2 separate regions of the Homo sapiens genome follow, and region 1 is linked to region 2. A link means that fine-mapping ties the variant in region 2 to the expression of a gene that starts in the linked region. Tissue or cell type: whole blood. Region 2 holds a variant in brackets; the other region holds the start of a gene. All regions are shown on one strand. Distances are between the middles of the regions.

The links. PIP is the estimated chance that this variant, and not a neighbour inherited with it, causes the effect.
Region 1: RPS6KA5 starts here. The variant in region 2 is fine-mapped to the expression of RPS6KA5 in whole blood (INTERVAL, PIP 0.98).

The regions. Positions count from the first base shown.
Region 1 is chr14:91,057,569-91,065,671 of GRCh38, reverse strand. It overlaps RPS6KA5 (ribosomal protein S6 kinase A5), which reads left to right and starts at 5,031. Exons shown (of 17, transcript NM_004755.4): 1 at 5,031-5,340. The coding sequence starts at 5,238. It also overlaps a transcript of DGLUCY not described here. RefSeq lists enhancers at 2,157-2,306, 4,721-5,301 and silencers at 4,529-4,658, 4,879-4,938, 5,309-5,438, 5,509-5,578.
Region 2 is chr14:90,925,633-90,933,736 of GRCh38, reverse strand. All of the region lies in intron 5 of RPS6KA5 (ribosomal protein S6 kinase A5), which reads left to right. Among named protein-coding and RNA genes, the nearest start is that of LINC02321, 100 kb to the right of the region's middle. The variant A/T (reference allele first, on the strand shown) is at 3,168.

The DNA of each region.
Region 1 (8,103 bases), 130 kb before region 2:
CTCTAATAGTTGTGCAAGAGTTGTGCATTACAAACTTGGTTGTACATTAGGTTAATGATGTGGGGAGCTTTAAAAAAAATCCCAAAGTCCAGGCCCAACCCCAGACCAATTTAAGTCACATTCTTTAGGGGTAGGAGTGGTGGAGATTTTTGTTTTGTTTTGTTGTTATTTTTCAGTATCCCAGGTGATCCCGATGTTCAGCCAAGGTTGAGAACTCATCCATACTAGCGCCAACTCCTTGGACTCCATCCTATTCTTCCAGGCTAGCAGCTTATCCTGGCTTCATTGCCTTCTCACCCAGCTTAGGCCCCAGGGTCATTCACTTTAACCAGGTTGTTGCCCAACCGCTCATCTCCCACCCAGAGGGGATATGTAAGTTGCTAGAGAAAGACACTTCACTATCCTGATTCAGGCTTTCTAACTCCACTGGAGCCCTGTGCTAATCAGCGTTTATACAAGCTGCCTGGATAGATCTATTTCTCATAGTGGCTGTTCCAACCTGTTTCCACTCTCCTCAGATCCCTAACCCATGCCCTCCCCTCCCTCCTATCACTCAGCACAGTGCTTAAGTCTGTGGAAGAAACTCTTCCTACATGTGTGCACATTTAAGTGATCATATGGCGTGCTTCTGCTTTACTAAGTTTACTAAGTTTTGCAACTCTTCTGCAATTTTAAAATTATTTGAAAATAAGATTAAAAGCCAAAAAACCGAAAAACTCCCTGGATCCCTCCAGCTAGGATCTTTGTTCTCTATTTTCCTTTGGAGAAAAATATGTCCCCACACATGGTTACTACTTCCTCACCTTCCATTTGCCTTGCCAAAACTGCTCTGGATATTGTCATCAGTGGTACCCAAGTTGACAAATTCAGTGGATCTTTCTAGACCTCATGTTATATGACATCTTAGGGTATCTGATACAGCTGACCATTCCCTTCTTCTGGAAATACTTTGGCTTCCAAGATACAAAACTCTCCAGGTTTTCCTTTTCTACCTCTAGCTCCACCTTCTTATTCCAACTTTTCTTTTCTTTTTTTTTTTTTTTTTTTTTGAGACAGAGTCTGACTGTGTCACCCAGGCTGGAGTGCAGTGATGCGATCTCAGCTCACTGCAACCTCTGCCTCCTGGGTTCCAGTGATTTTCCTGCCTCAGCCTCCCGAGTAGCTTGGATTATAGGCATGCACCACCATGCCCAGCTAATTTTTGTATTTTTAGTAGAGATAGGGTTTCACCTTGTTGACCAGGCTGGTCTTGAATTCAAGCGATCTGCCCATCTCAGCGTCCCAAAGTGCTGAGATTACAGGCATGATCCACCGCACCCAGGCTTCTCCCTAGGTAATCTCATTCGTACCTCTGGCCTCAAATGTCATCTATGTGCCAGTGATTCCTAAGCTTACATCCCTATGCTAGACCTCTCTTCAGAGCTCTAGACTCATATATCCACATAGCTACTTAATTTTGGCCCTGGATGTCTCAAAATTAAACTCTTGATGTTCTCTCTCATATGTGCTCTTCCTTTAATTTGTCCCTTTCATTATTAAATGGTACTGCCATCCTCTTCCAGCCACTAGCTGCTCACGCTAGAAACACTGGTGTCATTTCAGATATTTCCATTTTTCTCACTAACCAAGTCTAATCCTTCAAGTTCAAAATATAAACATAGAAATGTTCCATTTCTCTCCATCTCTACTGCACCCACTCTCATCTTTTGCCCAGATTACAGTGATAGCCTCCTAACTGGTCTCCTTGTATCCCATTTTGCCTTCTCCAGCGCAGTCTCCAAACACTAACTTCAGTGACCTTCTGAAAATACTACCACGATTATATCATTCCTGTGTTTAAATTCCTTCTACTGCTTCCCACTTCACACAGGATAAAGTCCAAAAATATTAATAAGAGCAACCACATACTTCCTGACCGGGCCTCTGCCCACCTCCTGAACCTCATCCCTTGCTTACTGCATTAAGGCTCCACTGCCTTTCTCAATCTCTCAACCGAATAGGCTCTTTGCCTGCCTCAGGACATCTTCCTAAAATTTTGATCCCTCCATATTACACATATGAAGTAGTATAAGGCTAGATTATGCTTTGGTAGCAAATAATCCCATCTAACTAGCTTATGCCTAAAACGGTGTATGTATTGCTCACATCACAGTCTGACATAGGTCAGGTGGCTCCTTAAAGAATTAAGTGGAAACTCAGGGGTTCAGAGTCCTCCCAGTCTGTGGCATACCCACATTAAAAATGTGGCCTTTGTTACAGCAGTTGAAAGAGAAGAGTGTGAGTGATTATGCAAGGAGTTTTCTGGTCAGGCCTGAAAATGTTATATATCATACCAATAGGATCTGCCCATACCCCATTGGCCAGATCATAGTCATATGACCCTAACCTAACTGCAAAGGAGGTAAGAAAAAAAAAAAAAAAGTCTTCCTGTGTGTCTAGGAAGAGGAAATGAGATTGGTGAACATCAGGCTACTTTTTGCCACATCCTGGTTAAAACCTACTCATTTTTAAAGTCTCAGCTTAAATAATACTTACTTACAAAGGTCTTCCAGCTCCTCCAACTTAAATTAGGCATCCCTGATACATTCTATTGTAGCACCCTGTAATTTTCCTTTACAGCATGATCACAATGGAAAGTTTATATTTCTTTATGTGATTAATATTTATATCTGTTGCTAGACTGTAGGCTCTATAGGAGCAAGGACTGCATCTGTTTTGCTCCCACTGTGTCTCTAGCACCTATTACAGTACTTGGTATATAACTGGTATAAAAGTTTTCGAGTGAACAAATGAACAGTTGCACACAGTCATTGCCTGGCTCCAAATAGCACATGACTTTTGCAGGAGAAAGACAAGTAAGTAGGCAGTCATGGTTTAGTGTGATGATAAATGTTCCAGGCAGGTAAGCCCAGGGAGCTGTGAAAGCAACCTGAAGGAACTTGCAAGGCTTCTGTGTTTTGTCTTTCACAGCAGTCGAATCCAGGAGTCTGCAAACTATGGCCTGTAGGCCAAATCTGGCTCATTGCCTGTTTTTTAACTGCCCTTGAGCTAAGGATTGTTTATATATATATATATATATATATATATATATATATATATATATATATATATATTTTTTTTTTTTTAGACAGAGTCTCGCTCTGTTGCCCAGGCTGAAGTGCAATGGTGTGATCTCGGCTTACTGCAACCTCCGCCTGCCAGATTCAAGCAATTCTCCTGCCTCAGCTTCCTGAGTAGCTGGGATTACAGGCGCCCACCACCATGCCTGGCTAATTTTTTGTATTTTTAGTAGATTCAGGGTTTTGCCATGTTGGCCAGGCTGGTCTTGAACTCCTGACCTCAGGTGATCCATCTGCCTCAGCCTCCCACAGTGCTGGGCTTACAGGTGTGAACCACTGCGCCTGACCTGTTTTTATATTTTTAAGTGATTCAAAAATAATTAAAAGAAGAATATATTACGATACATGAAAACTATGTGAAATTCAAATTTCAATGTCCATAAAAAATATTCTATTGGAACACAGCTACTTCTTTTATTTATTGTCTATGACTGCTTTTGCGCTACAATGGCAGAGCTGAGTAGTTGTGAAAAAGGTCATACAGCTTGCAAATCCTAAAATATTTACTATCTGGCCCTTAATAGAAAAAAGTGTGCTGACTCCTGATCCAATCCATGCTTAGTTTAAAAGATCACATCTATCTGAATTACGTCCAACTGTACATCTTTAAGTTTCTGCTTTTTCCCATTCTCGTGTCTGCTACTAGAAATCAGGTTCCCTTTAGTTCTATCCTTGCAGCAGGATTCCTGCCCTGCTATCTCTCTCCTCTTTTCAGTTCATCACTGTGTACTAAAAAAAATCTGCACTCTTCAGCACAGCATCCCTAGTTCCCCATTATCTTACCACACCTCACCTTGTCAGCTGTATCTCTTACATCATACTTTCATCTAACCTTATCAATCACTTAACCCACCCTTGCCTTCTCTGCTGTAGGCCAATGCTCACAGTTACTCTCTCTGTGTGGAATGTCTATTGCTGGTATTTCTCTCTTATCCATCCTTTACGTTGGTTATCTCAAATGCCTCCTTGCCCTAAAAGCTTTCCCCAGTTCCTCGTCTGGGAATAATTATTGCCATCCGTGCGAGATTCTCTAACGCTTTGTACGACTGCTTTATTTCAAATTCTGCTTTATAGTTCTTTTGTGTACACACACAGATTGTTTCTCACGTTCTATTGAAAGCTGCTTAGGGGAGGAATTGTATTCTATTTTGTTAATCTCTGCATCCTTTCGGCGCCTAGTAAGAGTCTTGTACGAAACAGAAATGTCTCTCCTTCGTAAAATTCCTCATCGGGAGCTGGGACTGTGAATTTTTGTAACGTTTAAGAACTATCTGTTATTTAAGAACAAACACTCTGCTTAACTTGTTTAGGGTTCACTAGAGCGAGTAAGACCTTTTTAGGGCACGCCGTCTCGCTGGTTGTCACACACGCATGGATCGCTGCCGGGACCCTTAGGTTTGTCTGCAAACACGTGGGTGATAAGCGCTACCCTCCAGGCCCCTCCTCTGTCCACGGTGATTGGCGGACCAAACGTTCCAATCATCCCTCCCCGCCTCTTTCGGCAGTAGCCAATCAGAGACCCCGAGCGCCTCCTGACTACTAGACACTGTTTACTAACAGATCGAAGCTGGGGAATAAGGGGTGTGACCGTTCTGGGGAGGTCAGGGAAGGGAAGGTCTTGACTGCGAGTGCGCACCAGAGGAAATGGGCGGGGCAGAGCTTTGGGTCTCACCAATCGGAGTGGCGGCGCTCCTCCCTCTCCTGCCTCCCCGCCAAGCAACAACAATTCGAGGAGCGAGGCGGGGAGGCTCGTGAAACGTCACAGCGTACTGCCCAATGGGAACCGGCGTTGGCAGACGCGCGCGCCCTGTGTCCAATCAGCGAAGGCGGCTCGAATGGCTCCCTTACCTTGCTGGCTGTGGGCGGAGCGGCCTGAGGAGGCGGCGGTGGAGCAGGGGGCGGTTTGGTTGCGCGGTACTAGCGGTGCCCGCCGAAGGGGGAGGAGGCGAGGAGCGAGCCGTGCGGCCAGAGCGGGAAAGAGACTCGTCTTTGCGTCCGAGTTCTGGAGCCGCCGCACCCCGACTCCTGGGGCCGCGGCAGCGGCTGCGAGGGGACGGGCGTCCGCTGTCTCCTGGGTTCCCCTCGTAGCGACCCGCGGGATCGGAAAAAAAGGAGAAGATGGAGGAGGAGGGTGGCAGCAGCGGCGGCGCCGCGGGGACCAGCGCGGACGGCGGCGACGGAGGAGAGCAGCTCCTCACTGTCAAGCACGAGCTGCGGACTGGTGAGCGACCCCGCCCTCTGCCGGCCGGGCCCGGCGCGGGGGCGCGCCTGAGGGCACGCGGGTGCCCGCGCGGGGCTGGGGGCGCGGGGCCGCAGCCGTGGGCGCGGAGGGGCGGGCCTGGGGCGGGGCGTCGCGGTCGGGGCGCGTGCCCCGGGGGTCCCGGGAGGTGGGGGCGCGCCTTGGGGGAGGCGGCCGAAAGTTTTCCCCAGCCCGGGAATGAGCGGCGGGCACCAGGCATCGGGGCCAGCGCAGCCGCCGACCGCTGCCCGTGGCACGCACCTCCGAGGATGTCGCTGCTCCCCCTTCCCGCACAGGTGACACACGTGTGTCTGCGTCCTGTCAGGGCGAAAGGTGCGCCTGCCTCCGCGTGGGGCGAGCGGCGCTTTGTTTTGGAGAGTGTCTCCCTCCTCCGCCCCTCTGGTCCCCGCGATGGGGGGTCCCGGTGGGGCTCTGTGGAGCCATCCCCTAAGGTGCTGGGGTCCTGTAGGAGATAAACGGGAGGTTTCGCCTCGGGCTTTTACCGAGTCCAGTCTAGAGACAGGAACAGGAATCGCCGGCTCCAGGGATTGAGTGCCTTTATTCTCACTTATCATGAAATACTATACTTGGCCTTGAATTTCCTTCAGAGGTCCCTGGAGATGATGGCTTTAGAAATTTAAAGCTCCAGGTAAAAGGAACTAACGAGCAGGCTTCAGCGCTTACGTTCTAATGTTTGAGATCACTAGCGTTGTCCTAAGCTTTATAACTAATTAAATGTATTCGTGGTGTAGGTTCAGGTTGTTCATTTTGGAAAATGCTTATTCAGACCAATCAGTACAATTTGGATTTATATTCTTGGAGCCCAGTCTCGTATTGTAGATATATTAATACTTTTTTCTCTGAACAGATAGTACATTTTAATGAGTCGTTCGTTATTACTAGATATGTTTGTGAGCGTTGAAGGTTTTTGACAGAGCTGCTTTGGCATATTGGGATTTTTTTTTTTTTTTTTCAGACAGAGTTTCGCTCTTGTTGCTCAGGCTGGAGTGCAGTGGCATGATCTCGGCTCACCGCAGCCTCCGCCTCCCGGGTTCAAGCGATTCTCCTGCCTCAGCCTCCGGAGTAGCTAGGATTACAGGCATGCGCCACCATGCCCGGCTAATTTTGTATTTTTTGTGGGGGCGGGGTGGGGGGGGCGGTCCTCTCCACGTTGGTCAGGCTGGTCGCGAACTCCCGACCTCAAGTGATCCGCCCGCCTCGGCCTCCCAAAGTGCTGGGATTACAGGCGTGAGCCACCGTGCCCGGCCGGGTTATTATTTAATTGTGAAGGCACAAAAGCTTAAACGGCAGGATTCAGGTGTCCACTAGTACATCTTGTTTCTGTTTTGAACAGATTGGAAAGTTAGCTCTGTCCGTCAGTTCTTTCAGTTTTTGTTATTTCTACTGAGATTGCCTATAAGCATTCCATTGGGTGCCAGTGTGGTGACTTAATTCAAGAGAGATGTCAAATTCATGCTTCTTAATTCAACATTTGTAAACATTGTTTTTTTGGTCATTGTGAATCTGTTATACATCTTGAGCCAGCTGTTCCATATTTTTGAGTTCCTAACATAACCTGTATGAATTCAGGTGATTTGGTTTTTCTTCTCTCAATTTCATAGACAACTGATATTTTCAAAAGACCCTGACATGGTTTACTCAGTATACATTTATTCGGATTTGTGCCACACTCAGTGTCAGGTGCTTTCTGGTGTGAAGATTTTGAATTTTTTTCTTGTCTTACATAACGATCCACTGATTTATATGTATGGAATCCTACTGTACAGCAAAAGCTACTTGAAGTCATATGCTTCTCAGCCATCGACTGTGGTGCAACAAGCAGCTTTTTGCTAAATGACCAAGGAGCAACCTGCTTGTTATTAGTAGTTAACCAACTGCTTGGTTTCTGGATTTTGCAAACAATGCTAGTTTTGTAGAAAACAATGAGTACTGCTTTATTTCCCCCTCTCTTCTAACTGTGTGAATCATCAGCTTCAAGTTCGCATTTTAGAAATTTTTCTGATGGATGGTGAGATTATACTGAATTCATTAGTACTGTTAACTGTCAAAGGAAACGAACAATCATTTTGATTTATTACTGAACACTGGAACAACTGACCGGATATAGTGGTCAAAAACACTGTTAAAATATAACTTGAAAGAGTTGCTCATCTTCAGCCAACTGCACTTCTTTCAGCACATGATCTATAATAGGCACCAGAGTAATTTGATCTGATATGGTCCCGTCTCAGAATGTAGATAAGCATCTAGTTATATCAGGCTGGCAGTTGGTGGTGGCTCATTTGTGCAGAACACTTTATTGTATTCCATAGGATGAATGAAAAAGCAAAAAACGTCCCATGAAAGGACATGGAGTTGGAAGACATGATTCTAAATCCCGTCTCTGCAGCTTAATATGTAGACATCGGCAAGTCACTTCACCCTTTCAGATTCACATCTTTAATCTATAAAATGTGAGAATTGAATGAGACACTGTTGGAAAAGTGCTAAGCGGGTTGCTTGGCATATAGTGGGCCCTTAGGAAATGTTGGTTGAATGTATATATAAAAATCATTCCATAATAGTATCTTATCTTGAAGTGTGTGAATTAATCCAGTGTAATTTGGGAAACAAATCACTCATTTAGTGTTTAGCCTATGTCACATTGCCTGGCTGTTATCTTTTTCTGTATATGTCCAGTCTTCTCATGTAGAGTGTAAATTCGCCATAATCTTTGCGGCTGCT
Region 2 (8,104 bases):
TCATTGTAAGGACTATGGCTTCTTCCCTGCACAAAATGGGGAGCCACTGGGGAGTTTTGAGTAGAAGAGTAGTGATCTCCTATTTTGGAAGAATAATTCTGGTTGATAACTGTGATAATCCTGTAGTGGGACAAGTGTGGAAACATGAGGTCCAGATAGAAAACTGTTGAAGTAATCCCAGCAAGAGATGGAACTGGCCTAGACTATGGAGTAGCAGATTTTAGGACTATTTTGACATTAGATCTAATGGAATTTTTTGATGAGTTAGATGTGGGGTATGAGAATTCAGAAGAAATCTAGTGTGGCCCCAAGGTTTTTGGCCAGAACAGCTGGAAGGATGAAATTTCCATCAACTAATATGGGGTAGGCTGCTGATGGGGAGCTATCTGGGGTTACAAGAGGAGAAGTTCAGCTGGACAGGTTAAGTTTGAGACATTTATTAGACACACAGCAGAGATGTTAAGCAGTGAGCTATATGAGTCTGGAATTTGGGAGAGAAGTCTGGTCTGGATCTATGAATTTGGAATTTGGAAAACAAGGTGGATTGTCTCAGAAGACAAGTGAAAAAATGTTTCAAGGTTGAAAATGATTAACTGTGTCAAATGCTATTGTTAGGTTAAATAAGATGGGGACTGAAGATTGAGCATTGATTGGCTCAGTTTTAACCTTAGGAAAGAGAATAGCAGTAGCCTTATTGTCTTCCACATATGTAGACAACTTGGGGTTTTCTGTTAAAAGGAATAGTGAAATTCTGTGAAGAGCATAGCAGAGGATGAAGTGAGGATGAAAAGAGGGTTTTTTCCCCTAAGATGGGAGAAATTACAGATGTCATACACTAGTTAGAATAGTCCTCAAAAGGAAGTGGGGTAGATACACTGATATCTACCACCCAAACCCAGATATCTATCTCCTATAATAATACAGCAGGTAAAGTGGGAAATTGCTGGAACACTGTCCTTGAGAAGGATAATGTCAAACGCACAAGTGAGTTTGTGCGTGATCATGCTACTAGTGCTTAACGAGTAGCATGGTCAGTTCATGCTTAGAAACTGAAGAAAGTTGAGTTACTAGGCACACATGTGGGTGGAGGTTAAGTGGTGTGTACTGGCAGCTTATAGAAGGTCTTCTGTTTTCTCACTGAGTATGAGGAAGGGAGTGGACACATCGAGGTTTTAGGAGAAAGGAGATGATATAAAATAACCAACTAACAATGTGGGAGAGTGAACGGATTAGGGAAATGAATGTGTTTGCTGGGTACTATTAAGACCCATGTGAGATTCCTGATCATGAATTTAAAGTGAAATTGCCTGGGCTGATGCCTGTAATCCCAGCACTTTGGGAGGCCGAGGTAGGAGGATCACTTGAGCCCAGGAGTTTGAGACTCAACAGCCTGGGGAACAGTGTTGGGCAACAGTGAGACCTCATTCCTATAAAAAAATAAAAAAATTAGCCGAGCATGGTGGCACGTGCCTGTATTCCTAGCTACTTGGGAGGCTGAGCTGGGAGGATTGCTTGAATCCGGGAGGCAGAGGATGCAGTGAGCCAAGATCATGCCACTGCACTCCAGCCTGGGTGACAGAATGAGACCCTGTCTCAAATGAATGAATGAATGAATGAATGATTGAATGATTGAATAAAATCGGCCAACCTGATTATATGGTTTTCTCCAACAATGTGTAGCTGCACTGGTGCAGGTAAAGAGTATGTGGTGGATTAATTTTAATTGTGTTTTAGTACCCTTACTTCATGTGTGTATATCCGTAAACAATATATACTATTACCATGTTTTTTAAATGTACATACATGACATATTCTATTGCAAATTGTTTTTTATTTGACCTATTCTTGAAATTTATCCAAGCTGATAAATGGGATGTTTCATTTATTTTAACTGTTGTGTAATAATCCTTTATATTAGTTATCCAGTCTATCTTTTCTCCTACTGAGGTACATTTAGGTTGTTTCTATGTTTTCTCTATCACAGTGTTGCATTTTTTCCCCTGATGTTATTGATTTGTTGGAGTTCGTTAAGTATTATAGATACCAACCCTTTATAACTATATGTTTTGTAAATTTCTTTTCTAAAATTTTAACTTGTTTTTAATTTTGTTTAATGATCTTTTTTGCCATTTAACATTTTAATATCCAATGTACTAAATCTTTTCTTTTACGGCTTATTTTTTTAATTTTAAAAAAATTTTAATTGTGGTTAAAAAAACACAAAACAAAAATTGCCATCTTAACTGTTTGTGAATATATGGTTCAGCAGCTTTAATAATACTCATTTTGTTATGTAACAGATCTCTAGCACTTTTTCATCTTGCAAAATTAAAACTCTATACCTTTTCCCCCGTCCCCTAACCCCCAGCAGCCACCATTCTACTTTCTATTTCTGTGAGTTTGACTACTTATGATATCCCATGTCAGTGGAGTTGTACAGTATTTATTTTATTTTTGTGACTATTTCACTTAGCATAGTTCTCAAGGTTCATGCATGCTGTAGCATGTGACAAGATTTCCTTCTTTATTAAGGCTGAATAATATTCCATGGTATTTATATGCCACATTTTGTTTATTCGTTTATCTGTTGATGGACATTTGGATTGCTCTCACCTCTTGGCTATTGTGAATAATACAGTGAACGTGGTTGTGCAAATATTTCTTCAAGAGGCCTGCCTTCAATTCTTTTGGATATATACCCACAAGGGGGATTGCTAGATCATATGGTAGTTCTACTTTTAATTTTTTGAGGAACATTTATACTATTTTCCATAGCAGCTGCACCATTTTACATTCTCACCAGCAGTGCTAAAAAGTTCCAGGTTCTCCGTATCTTTGCCAACACTTGTTATGTTGGTGTTTTTGTTATTATAGTGGCTGTCCTAATGAGTGTAAGGTGAAATCTCATTGTAATTCTGATTCGCGTTTATCTCTAATCATTAGTGATGTTGAGCATCTTTTCATATGCTGTTAACCATTTGTATGTTATCTTTGGAGAAATGTCTATTAGAGTCCTTTGCTCATTTTAAAATCAGGTTATTTGTGGGTTTTGTTGTTTTTAGGAGTTCTTTATATATTCTAGATATTAACTCCTTATCAGATATATGATTTGCAAATATTTTCTCCCATTCTGTAGGTTGCCTTTCATTCTGTTTCTTTCCTTCGAT[A/T]TTCAGAAGTTTTTAAATTTGATATAGTCCCATTTGTCTATTTTTGCTTTTGTTGTCTGTGCTTTTGGTGTCATATCTAAGAAATCGTTGCCAGATCCAATGTCATGAAGCTTTTCCCATGTATTTTCTTCCAGGATTTTTACAGTTCTAGGTCTTACATTTAGGGTATAAAATCAGGTGGAAATATTTTATATTTTTAATACAAATAACCCAATTACCTTTTAAGTATTTGTTGACTAGTCAGTTAATCTTTTCTCTTCTTATTCGAAATGCAACTTCTGTCATATAACTAAGTTCCCAAGCATACTTACGAGTCTGTTTTTAGGCTCTTCATTGAATTCCATTTGTCTGTTTGCCTCGCTCTGTATCAGAACCAAAATATCTTAAAGCATCTGGCTGGCCGGGCGTGGTGGCTCACGCCTGTAATCTCAGCACTTTGGGAAGCTGAGGTAGGAGGATCGCTTGAGGCCAAGAGTTCAAGACCAGCCTGGGCAATATAGCAAGAATTCATCTCTACAAAATATTTAAAAAATTAGTTGAGTGTGTTGGTGCATGCCTTTAGTCCCAGCTGCTCGGGAAGCTGAGGCAGAAGGTTCACTTGAACCCAGGAATTTGAGGTTGCAGTGAGCTGCGATCATGCCACTGCACTCCAGCCTAGACAACAGAGCAAGACTTTATCTCAAAAAAGAAAAGAAAAAAAAGCCTATCATTTTATAGTAAGTCTTGATTCTGAAAAGGTGAGATCTTTTTCCTCTTCACCCTCACCCTACCTCCCTCTCCTTTCCCCCGACCTTCGTCCTCCCTCTTCACTGTCTTCTCTATTCTTGGCTTTTTGTGTTCCTCCACATGAATTGTGGAATCGAATATATAAATTAATTTGGAGGGAACTGCAATTTTTGAATATTGACCCTTCCAGTCAATGAATTTGCATCAGTGAATGTTCAGATCTTCTCATTTATTTAGTTTTTTATGTCTTTCAAAAATATTTTGTACTATTATCTGTAATATTTTATACATATATTATTAGACTTATTTCTATTTATACATTTTGTTTCAATTATAAGAATTACCTTTAAAAACTGGAATATTTATGTTTTTCTTGCCAGAGCTTAGGAATGCTGTTGACCTTATACATAAAACATTGAATTCTTATTAGGTGCACAAATTTATAGATTGACTTGGATTTTTGTATAGATGACTACATTAAAAAGAAAAAAGTCAGAACCATTATTTGTAAGTAATAATGGCTTTGTTTCTTTTCATTTCTCATACCTTTTAGTTTCTGTGTGTTTGGGGATGGTTATTTTGTTTAGGTTTGGCTTGGTTTTATTGATTTGTCTACCAAGTTTTATGTGTATATGTATTTTTTACATTAAAGAACATGTATTTTAGTCATTTAGTATGGTATTTGCTGTAGGTTTTTGGTAGATAAATTATATTTTTAGTATCTTTATTGTTATAAGTAAATTCTTATGGTTTTTCTCTTTAACCACATAATGATGTGAATTATATGAATAGATTTTTGTTTCCTTTTTCAGTGTTAGACCATCTTTCAATTCCTGGAACAAACTTAACTTTCCATGATATGTATTTTTTATACATTGCTGGATTTTATTTGCTAATATTTTACTTAGGATTTTATTTTCTAAGTTGACCTATAATTTTCCTGTATAAAATTGCATTTGTCACATTTTAGTATCAAGGTTGTCCTAGCACCATGAAATGGATTTAGAATGGTTTATGTAAGATAAAGTACATTTCTTCTAAAGGTTTGTGTGGATTCACTTTCAAATCTGCCAGAGTGTGTTTTTTTCCTTTTTTTTTTTTTTTCATTTTAAGTGAGTGCAAGTAGCTTTTCAAATACTGATTTAATTTTTAAAATATTTACAAGTATATTTAGAGTTTTTATTTCTTCTTGAATGTTAACATTTTTATAGAAAATGGTATTATCTTTTTAAATTCTTTGACATCAGTTTCTTCAGAATTTCCTTACTTTTAAAAATCTCTGTAACTATAGTAATGTTTTATTTTAAATTACTGATATTATTCATTTGTTACTTTTCTTGATCCTTTGTTAGAAGTGTCCATTTTATTAGTCTTTTATAAGAAAGAGCTTTTGTCAAGCCTTCTATTTTTCTTCTCTTTCTTTGATGAGGTTTATTATTTTGTGCATTTTACTTTCTATAAGCTTCTTTCATATTCTTTTTCTAAGCTTTTAATTTGGACATCCAGCTCACTAATATTTAATCTTTTTAAAATAAAGCTGTGAATTTTTAAAAATAGCTCTAGCTGCATCCCACAAGTTCTTATATATAGTATTTTTATTGTTACTGTAATATTTATTGTCACTTTTTCTTTGAGTGGTGGCTCATACCTATATCCAAGCACTTTAAGAGTCTGAGGCGGGCGAATCACTTGAGCTCAGGAGCCTGGACAACATAGCAAAACTGCGTCTCTCTACAAAAAGTACAAAAATTAGCCAGGCGTGGTAGCAAGAGCCCAGCTACTTGGGAGGCTGAGGCAAGAGGATCACTTGAGCCTGGGAAGTCAAAACTGCAGTGAGCTGTGATCACACCACTACACTCCAGCCTGGATGACAGAATGAGACCTTGTCTCAAAAAAAAAAAAAAAAGAAAAGAAAAGAAAGAAAGAGAAAAAAGACATATGCCTGAAAGACTATGTGTGTATTCTCTAATTGATGGATACAGGATTTTGTATATTTTCATGAATATCATTCAAATCTTGAATATCTTTACTAATATTTTTCCTTCTTGATCTGTCAGTTATAAGAAACATATGTTAAAATACCCATGATGATTGTGGATTTGTCCATTTCTCCTTGAAGATCTCTCCATTTTTATTTTATATATTTTTAAAGCTTTTCACAAATTTTTGAGGATATTCAAGCTTGGAATAGAGTTATTTCCCTAGTGAAATGTTCCTTTTATTATTTTGTAATGTACGTAATTTTAATAATTCTTTTGCCTTAAAGTTCATTTCTCCTCCTATTAATAAAGATACTCCAGCTTTCTGTTGGTTAGTGCTGTCTGATACAACTTTTTTCATCTCTTTACTTTCAATCTTTCTTTGTCATTATGTTTTAGGTGTGCCTTTTATAAATAACATATAGCTGGATTTTATTTTTTGATCGAGAGTTTCTGTCTTTTAACTGGTGAGTTATGATACCTGTATATTATGATTACTGATATATTTTTATTTATTTCTCTTATCTTGCTTTGTGTTTCTCTTTGCTTCTGTTTTCCCTTTTTCCTGTCTTCTATTTAAATGATTAAGATCTTTTGATTTCATGTCCGCCTAATGGTCTGGAAGTCATGTATATTCTATTTCTGTTCTTTTAGTAGTTATTACCCTGATTTTATTTACTTATCTATTTTTATACACAAGGCATTTCTGTAATATTACCCTGATTTTAGACTTGTGCTCTGACTTAACAGAGTCTGAAATTATCCATTATCTCTCAAACGATCATGACCACTACAAGAACGTTAGAATGCTTCAACTTCAGTTATTTATCTAATTTTTATATTATTTAGTATTTTAGTCCTACCTGCTAAATTTCCACAAATCAATCATTACTGTGCAGTTATTACTTTTATTTTATAAATTCAGTGCTTGTTTATATTTACTTACACATTTGTTTTCTCTGCTTATTCTTGCTTCTTGCATCTGAGTTTTTTCTTTCAAGTTCAATTTATTAATTTATGAAATACATACGTTAGATTTCTTTTTAGCAAGGTTCAATGATTAATAAATTCTGTCTTTGTCTTAAAATGCTTTATTTTGCCCTGCATATTAACTGATAACTTAGCTGCTGGGTATAAATAGATCTAGGAATGGACCTGTGAGATATGTACACACACACACACACACACACACACACACACTTAAATATATATATATATACACATACATATATATGTCTCTCTTTTTATTGTAAAGTAAAACAGATTCAAAAACAAAATAAATGTATGGCTCAGTGAATTATTATAAGACAGCACCCTTGTAACCACCACTCAAGTGAAGAAATAGAATGTGGCCAATCAGGAATATATTTTTATTTAATCTGCTTAGGACTTTTGCAATATTCTGGATAATTTTCTCAAATTTACTAAGTCTTTAGTAAATTTTACTAAGTCTTTTTTTTTGTTTTTTTTTTTTGAGACAGAGTCTCACTCTGTGGCCCAGGTTGGAGTTGAATGGTGCGATCTCTGCTCACTGCAACCTCCACCTCCCAGGTTCAAGCAGTTCTCCTGCCTCAGCCTCCTGAATAGCTGGGACTACAGGCACGTGCCACCATGCATTTTTAGTAGAGACAGGATTTGAGCTATGTTGGCCAGGCTGTTCTCGAACTCCTGACCTCAAGTGATCCGCTCACCTTAGCCTCCCAGAGTGCTGGGATTACAGGTGTGAGCCACCATGCCCAGCAATTTTACTAAGTCTTGAGAAGATTATCCAGAATGTTGCAAAAGTATCCTCTAATTTACTGTCTTTCTTCAGCTGTGTCTAATACGTTTAGTCTGCCTTTTTTATTGCCTCGTTTCTTTATTTGCACAGCTCTATTTGATTCTTTTTCTTCTTTTCTTTTCTTTTTTTTTTTTTTTTTTTTTGAGTCAGGGTCTCACTCTATCACCGAGGCTGGAGTGCAGTGGTGCGATCATGGCTCACTGCAGCCTCGATCTCCTGCTCTCAGGTGATTCCTCTTGGCTCAGTCTCCCAAGTAGCTGGGACTACAGGCATGCGCCACTATGCCCTGCTAGGTTTTTTTTTTTTTTAATTTTTTTGTAGAGACAGGGTTTCACCATCTTGCCCAGGCTGTCTTATTTTATGTCTTTTATCTTTTACAACATGCTGGTCATTTACAGATTATTTTTCTACTGTTTCAAGTAATCCTTCAGTTTGTTGTGTCTGTGGAGTCT